2 linked regions of the Homo sapiens genome follow. The protein of the gene in region 2 purifies or fractionates together with the protein of the main gene of each other region. This does not show direct contact. Each region holds a gene or a part of one and is shown on either strand. Other genes may lie near its edges.

The links. Proteins that work in one complex are often made in the same cells at the same time.
Region 1: the proteins of OSBPL5 (region 2) and PRR11 purify together in Homo sapiens (co-immunoprecipitation; 3 studies listed by BioGRID and IntAct, with this or other methods). This does not show direct contact.

Annotation. Positions count from the first base shown.
Region 1 is NC_000017.11:59,193,742-59,197,491, reverse strand, and holds part of PRR11 (proline-rich protein 11), read right to left. Parts: intron 2,736-3,750; coding exon 2,637-2,735; intron 2,162-2,636; coding exon 2,049-2,161; intron 1-2,048. UniProt on the Homo sapiens protein: Plays a critical role in cell cycle progression.
Region 2 is NC_000011.10:3,088,668-3,092,417, forward strand, and holds part of OSBPL5 (oxysterol-binding protein-related protein 5), read right to left. Parts: intron 2,030-3,750; coding exon 1,891-2,029; intron 1,282-1,890; coding exon 1,179-1,281; intron 1-1,178. UniProt on the Homo sapiens protein: Lipid transporter involved in lipid countertransport between the endoplasmic reticulum and the plasma membrane: specifically exchanges phosphatidylserine with phosphatidylinositol 4-phosphate (PI4P), delivering phosphatidylserine to the plasma membrane in exchange for PI4P, which is degraded by the SAC1/SACM1L phosphatase in the endoplasmic reticulum.

The sequences.
Region 1 (3,750 bases), on a different chromosome or scaffold from region 2:
ATCACAAGGTCAGGAGATCAAGACCATCCTTGCTAACACGGTGAAACCTTGTCTCTATTAAAAATACAAAAAATTAGCCAGGTGTGGTGGTGGGCGCCTGTAGTCCCAGCTACTCGGGAGGCTGAGGCAGAAGAATGGCGTGAACCCGGAAGGCAGAGCTTGCAGTGAGCAAAGATTGCACCACTGCACTCCAGCCTGGGCAATAGAGCAAGACTCTGTCTCCAAAAAAAAAAAAAATTAGAACTTGCCAGATTTTATTATTTTTTTCCCAAAGGAAAGCAATCATTTCTATAGGCAACATCCTAGAAAGTAGTTCTATGTGTTACATTAAAAAATAGCAGTAGAAGCAGGGTGCGGTGGCTCACGCCTGTGATCCCAGCACTTTAGGAGGCCGAGGCAGATGGATCACGAGGTCAGGAGTTCATGACCAGCCTGGCCAAGATGGTGAAACCCCATCTCTACTAAAAATACGAAAATTAGCTGGGCGTGGTGGCGGGTGCCTGTAATCCCAGCTACTCGGGAGGCTGAGGCAGAGAATTGCTTGAACCTGGGAGGCGGAGGTTGTAGTGAGCCGAGCTTGTGCCACTACTCCAGCCTGGGTGACAGAGCTCCTTCTCAAAAAAAGAAAAAAAGAAAAAAAATAGCAGTAGATGCCGATGGGAACATAAGATGATATAGCCATTCCAATATGTAATACTTCTTGACCCAGGAGTTACATGTGTAAGAATCCATCCTAGGGAAAAACTCAGCCATGTACAGAGTTGATAGGCAAGGATGTCCACTGAAGACTTACAGAAATTAAATGTCATAACCTAAGTCAGGCGCAGTGGCTCACCCCTGAAATCCCAGCACTTTAGGAGGCCGAGGGGGGTGGGTCATTTGAGGTCAGGAGTTTGAGACCACCCTGGCCAACATAGTGAAACCCCGTCTCTATTAAAACATACAAAAATTAGCCAGCACTGTGGCACACGCCTGTAATCCCTGCTACTCAGGAGGCTGAAGCAGGAGAATTGCTGGAACCCGGGAGGTGGAGGTTGCTGTGAGCCGATATTGCATCACTGCACTCCAGTCTGGGCGACAGAGCAAGACTCCATCTCAAAAAATAAAAAAATACAAAAAATAAATAAATAAAACAGGTTGCTTTCAGAAATTATATAATATGAAAACTAGTGTGTCTTGGAATCAAGCAAATATGGTATATGTGTGTATCTGTCTGTGTATAATCATATTGTAGATATAGTTTTTCCCATTCAGTATATCATGAACTCTTCCTATCTTTTTGAAAATTAACTTAAAGTGTCATTTTGACATCTTCAAAATATGCAGTTAATTGTATGTAAATTTCATAGATAAAATCCTGTTTTAAGACATTTAGGTTATGATTTTTTTTTTTTTTTTTTTTTTGAGATGGAGTCTCTCTCTGTTGTCCAGGCTGGAGTACAGTGGCACAATCACTTCTTACTGCAGCCTTGATCTCCTGGGCTCAAGTGATCCTCTTTCTTCAGCCTCCCAAGTAGCTGGGACTACAGGCACACACCACTGCATCCGGCTAATTTTTAATTTAATTAGTTTTTTTTAGAGATGGGGCTCTCACTATGTTGCCCAGGCTGGTCTTAAACTCCCGGCCTCAAGCAATCCTCCTACTTCAGCTTCCCAAAGTGGTGGGATTACAGACATAACCCACCACTCCCAGCCTAAAATTCTTGATAGTATATCTTTTTCTCCCAAAATCTGTTATTAAATCAATGCCATATCTTATAATAAACAGCATCTTTAAATGGGGCAATAAACCATATGCCCAGAAAAAGACTAGAATGATAAACAGCAGTATGTTAACAGTGGCTATCTCCAGTGATAGGATTATTTAGATAATTTTTGTTTTCTTTTTTAAACTTTTCTGTAGATTTCAGTTTTTCTATAATGAGCATATATAACTTTTAACATTAGAAATACACACAAAAAATCTTTTTTTCCTTTTCTTTAGGCCTTTGTACAACAATATCATTCTTTTAAGTAGTAGTAGAGCATAGTACTGTGCAGTTCCTTACATTAAGACGTTTGTAACTCGAGTCGATAACACTTTGGAGTTAGGTTTCAGGGTAACATGCTGCAAGTCAGAGACGGTAACTAGTGGATTCCGTGCTTTCGGCGATGGTATAAGCTTTAATTATAAAATGAGACATTATTAAAACAAATTTTAAAATATCACTCAAAATGTAAACATGCAAAAACGGCAAATATCTGAGTGCTGAGTTTGTGTAAGATATATCCAGTATGCTACCCAATTTTTATTCCAGAGCTTCAAAGGATGTCTCTACCTCTTCAGACTAAGGGTTGGGAGATAAAATTGCCTAATTAAATCATTTCCTAATATATACATTTTGTTGGGAAATCCAAAACTACTAAAATAAAAACATCAAAAACTTAACTTGAAATGAAATGACTTCTCCCTCCAGCACCCCCGACCCCAATTGTATACAAATTGAGATGAGGTCTTGCCATATTCCCCATGCTGGTCCTGAACTCCTGGGCTCAGGTGATCCTCCCACCTTGGTCTCCCAAAGTGCTGGGATTATAGGCATGAGCCTATATTGTTAAAAGCAAAAAGAGCATGTATGTGGTCAATGACATCTTACCTTCCTCTTTTCATCTAAACTCTGTGTCTTCTTTAATTTTACAGTCAGCAGATCTTTAACTGTTATCTGCATGGGTCCATCTTTTTTTAATGGTCCAGCCTTAAAATACATGGTAAGGTTAGAATTCAAATTGGAACCAGCACAACTGGTGAAATGCAAATCCAAATCTAGTTTTTAAAGACTCAGAGTTAAGAGGTAACTCTTATCTACCCTAGGAACCTGTCATATTCTTTCTACTCAACCAAGAATAATCGTATTTTTATCACCCATTGAAAAGCATTCATCAAAATGTAAGGCTTCCCCCACCCCGCAATTTTGTTTTTATAAGCTAAGACTTTGCTAACAAATAAGAGATGGACTAGTTTCCTGCAATATTGCATCTTCCCCGGGAGTCATTATAATAAGACAAGAGTTGAAGGAGTTAATCGGGTTAAAGTGAAGTTTTGCTTGAATTACCTAGAAAGATGACTCAGTTTCCACAGAACAAGAATGTATACAATCAGAGAGGTATAATTAGGGCAAATATAACAATAGGCTCCAGGTTTTGTTTTGTGTGTGTGTGTGTGTGTGTGTGTGTGTGTGTGTGTGAGGATTGGGAAGACTCTGGATTTAATTCAGCTACATTAAACCAAATTATCCATAGTGAAAATTCAGCAGATTTTAAAACAGGGTCATGCCTGTCTTAGTGATTCACAAATTGTCTGGTCCCCTTGGTAAATAAGTAACTGAAATAGAGATTGGTTCTCCAGCCTAATGATATGAAACTTTGGAATCCACTAACTCTTTGTTCTGACTTTACTCTCTAAGCAATCTTCTATTCTAAATTTGGTTTCCTAGGGAGGTTTTCTTCCCTAGGAAAAAGCCATGCTGAGAAGCGAATAGAAATCTTCCACTCTACTGGGTTTCACACACATCACTTTCATTTCTCAATCCAGCTTCTAGGAATTTCTCAGGAACTGAGATTTTAAAAACACAATAATTAAGATACGGAATCAGAACAAAATATAGCCTTCTGGCCCAAGCCCTGATTAGCCTGGCCTTAAAAGGCCACTTGGCTTTACTCCTATATTACACACTCACCAAAACATATCAAAACATATCATTACTAGATTGT
Region 2 (3,750 bases):
AGTCCTAACCCCTTGCACCTTAGATAAGACTGTATTTGGAGATGGGGTCCTTAAAGAGGTATTTATTTAAATGGAGACCATTAGGGTGGGCCCTGGTCCCATGGGACTGGTGTCCTTATATGAAGAAGAGATGAAGACACAGACACAGCGAGAAGCTGGCGTCTGCCAGGCAGGAGAGAGGTCTCGGGATAAACCAGCCCTGTGGCACCGAGATCTTGGACTCCAGCCTCCGGGACCGCGAGGGAGTAGACGCGCTGTCCGAGCCCCTTGCCGGCAGTACTCTGCTGTGGAGGCCCTGGCCCTGAGCTGGAGTACTTTGCCGTGGAGGACCTGGCCTCTGAGGCGGTATCCAGTTTGCTGCAGAAGCTTCTGGCTGAGTCCTGGCCACCTGCCTGACAGCTGACCTGCTTCTGGGGAGCCAGGCCTCCCTGCTTCTCTGCCCACACAGCCTCACCAGGGAGCACCTTCTGGAAATGCTTACACAGGGACAATGACAGTTCCCCAAGGCTCTTGAGCCTCACAGAGCCCGGGCCTGTGCCCTGGCTGCATTTCACCCTGGGGTACTGCTATCAAGCCCACTTTACAGAGGGGAGGCTGAGGTGTGACAGCCAAGGTCCCACAGCCAGTGAGACCCTCAGCCTGGCTCAGAGTCAGGAGCTTTGGACCCGAGAGGGACCCTGTGCTCTGCTCCTCATTGGTGGGATCTGCTGACAGGAAGGGGCCATGTGGCCCTGGTGGCCTGCACCTGCCAGCTCTCGGCCACTCCCATTTGCTCCTTCCCCAGCCATTCCTGAGAAGCCACTGTGCGCAGGTATGGGGCCACCACAGTGAGCCCAGGCTGCCACCTCGCTCTGCACACCTCAAGGTCTCTCCTGGGGCTACCCCAGGCCATGCTGGGCTGGCACCTTCCTCTAGGCTTCAGGACATCTCCAGCTCAGTATCTGCCAGGCATGGCCAACTTGGCTGGTTGATCATCCCGCACCACCTGCCGCTCCCACACCCTCTCTCCTGCCCTCGGCGGTTGTCTTCCTTTCATCACCCTGCAGGTCTTGTGGGTTCCAGCTCCGATGACAACCCCAGCCGCGGCCTCCTGGCCTCCCCACCTCCCGCCCTAGCTCTACCAGGTCTCTCGCACTCTCTGACCCGGAGTCTGGATGGACACCCTGAGTGTGGCCCACCTGTGCAGCTCCTGCTGGGCCTCTCGGATGGAGAGGATGGCCTCGTGCAGGGCCTGCAGCCGCCGCGCCTCCTTCCTGCACCGAGGGCATGGGCTCTCACCGCCTGGGACGGCCCCGAGTGAGACAAAGGAGGGGAGGGGAGGAGTGAGGATGAGCTGGAGGTCCAGTGGGGCTGGCACGTGGGTCACAGGGTCATATCCAGCTCGGGCCTCCACCCCACCTCATGGGAAACCTGCAGGGCCAAGCTGAAGACACGGAGATGAGGGAGGGGTGCTGAGGATGTTTCTGGAGGGAACCCCCAGGCTGGACCAGCCACTAACAGGCCTGGGAGGCAGAAGTGGCCAAGGCAAGGCCCATCCATTACAGAGGCAGGGACAAAGTTGGGGAGACACAGCTCCTGGTGACAGGAAAGGAGCAGAGGGCTGGGGCAGGATGCCACTGGACCTGCCCCTCCCACCGCTGGGGAGCCCCTGGCCTGGGCCCACTCCCTTTCTTCCCCACCCCCACCATTCCCCCCGTTGGCCCTTGGGCTGCCTCCCAGACTCTGAGAGGGCAGAGCCTGCTGGGGGGCCCCTCAGGGCAGCAGAGGAGCTTTTGCTGGGAGGTTGCCCTACATCTGGGCAGGTGCTTCTCTGGCCTCCCCTCCAGCCAGGTCAGCATCTGAGGCACCCCACCAGACAGAGGCCTTGGGGCTGGGCCCAAGGGGGCTCACCAGGGACAAAGTCACCATCCTGCTCCTCGTCTGAGAGCTCTGGGCAGGACTCAGGCGTGGATCCGCTGCTCTCCGTGGCCTGGCTGTGGCCGGAGGGCTGGTCGCTGGCCTTGCGAAGCCGCTGGTCTGGGCCAGACCTCTGCAGAGAAATGGAGCTGCTGCAGCTGAAAGCCACCCACGCCCCCTGCCCAGGCCCCAGGGACATGGTGGCATGCTTATGCCAGGACAGTGCTAGAGGTGGCAGCCAGCAGGGAGGGCAGCTGCTGGGCTGTGGAGCTGGCTGGAGGGGTCTGTCTCAGCCCCGGCATGGCCTGGAGTAGCCATGGTCCCTTTGAGCCTGTTTCCTCATGGGTGAGACAGAGCTACTGACCCCTCACAGTGAGCAAGGGCCTGCAAGGTGGTGCAGACACGCCTGCCCTGTGCTCACCATGGCGTTGCATCCAATAAATGCAGAGATGATGGCATGGGGGGCCGAGGGTGGTTCTGACCCCTGAGCCATGAGGACAGATGAAAGCCGAGGCCACTGTGGGAGCTGGGAGGTTCATAGGAACCCCAGATGGCTAGGGTTCCCCATGTCAAGGGGCATCTCCAGGGGGGAACCCCCACACTCAGCCGGCTGCTCACAACCCCAGGAGTGCAGGCAGGGCTCATCCATTCAGCCCTTACTTGAGCTCACAAGGAACCCAGGACAGGAACTGATGCTCAGGGGTGGGGAAAAAGCAGAACCTGGCTGTGGGACCACCATGTAACAACAGGCGTTTGGGGCCAGAGAGGTGCCAGGGACGCTCTGCATTGGGTGTGGTCAGCGACGGGGCAGGTGGGGTCAGAGCCAGGACAGGTGGGGTCAGAGGCGGGGCAGGTGGGTTTGGCCACAAGGTACTCCATGGGATGGTTTTTGAGGCATGGCAGGGCCCAGGCTGACTGACCTCAGCAGGGGCTGCGGGGTGGGAGGCTGCAGAGGGCATTGGGGGTGGACATCTGCTGGAGATTGGTGGGGAGAGGCTGAGGAGCGGGACTGCGAGGGTCTGGGGCCAAGGGAAGGCAGGAGCTAGCAGTCTGGCCTGAGCCCGGGGGGATGGAGACTGTGCTGCAGACATAGGGGGTGCATCTGTCTACCTTCCTGAGGCTTCTTCCCTAGTCCCTTGGCAGGCAGAGCATGGGACATGCAGCCAAGGAGATACCGCGGCCCCCAGCTTGCTGGAGAAGTTAGGGCCATCAGGCAAGCAAGGCCTCTCATCTGAGTCTGGCCCAGACGGCATCAGCTGGGGAACACGCCCCCATCCTGTCCGCTGCGGGTGAGCACCGGCCGCGCTCTGCACCCTCTGCACGCAGTAGGTGCACGGCTGGGGCGGTGCAGCTCAGCACACCTGGAACGGGGGCGTGTGGGTTTGGCGCCACCTGGTGGCCGCCTAAGGCATGGCACCAAGACACACCCAAGGCAGCTTCCTCAGGTTACTCCCTGGAGCCTCCTGCTGTCCCGCTTCCCCTTTCCAGACACAAGATCTGTGCAAGTGCTGGCTCCTCCTCCTCCTACCTGGGAAGGGCCCTGGGCTGCCCTGACCTTCTGTTTCCTGATCAGTGGAATGGGATAATGTGGCTGCTAACTTGGCAGAGGGAGACTTTGGGGGCAGTGGACAGAGACAGTAGACACAGGGTCCCACAAGCCAAGGTGCCCCTAGAACTGAGCATCCTGCAAATCCCGGTTTCCTGAGTCCCATGCTCGGCAGAGAAGGAAAGGGGACGAGGGGGCTGGGGGATGAGGGCGTGAGGGAAACGGAGCGAGGGGAAGGGAGGAGTGAGGTGAGGAGCGAGGGGTGGTGGTGGCCACACGTGCAGCTAAGACCAGCCCTGGGTGGGGCC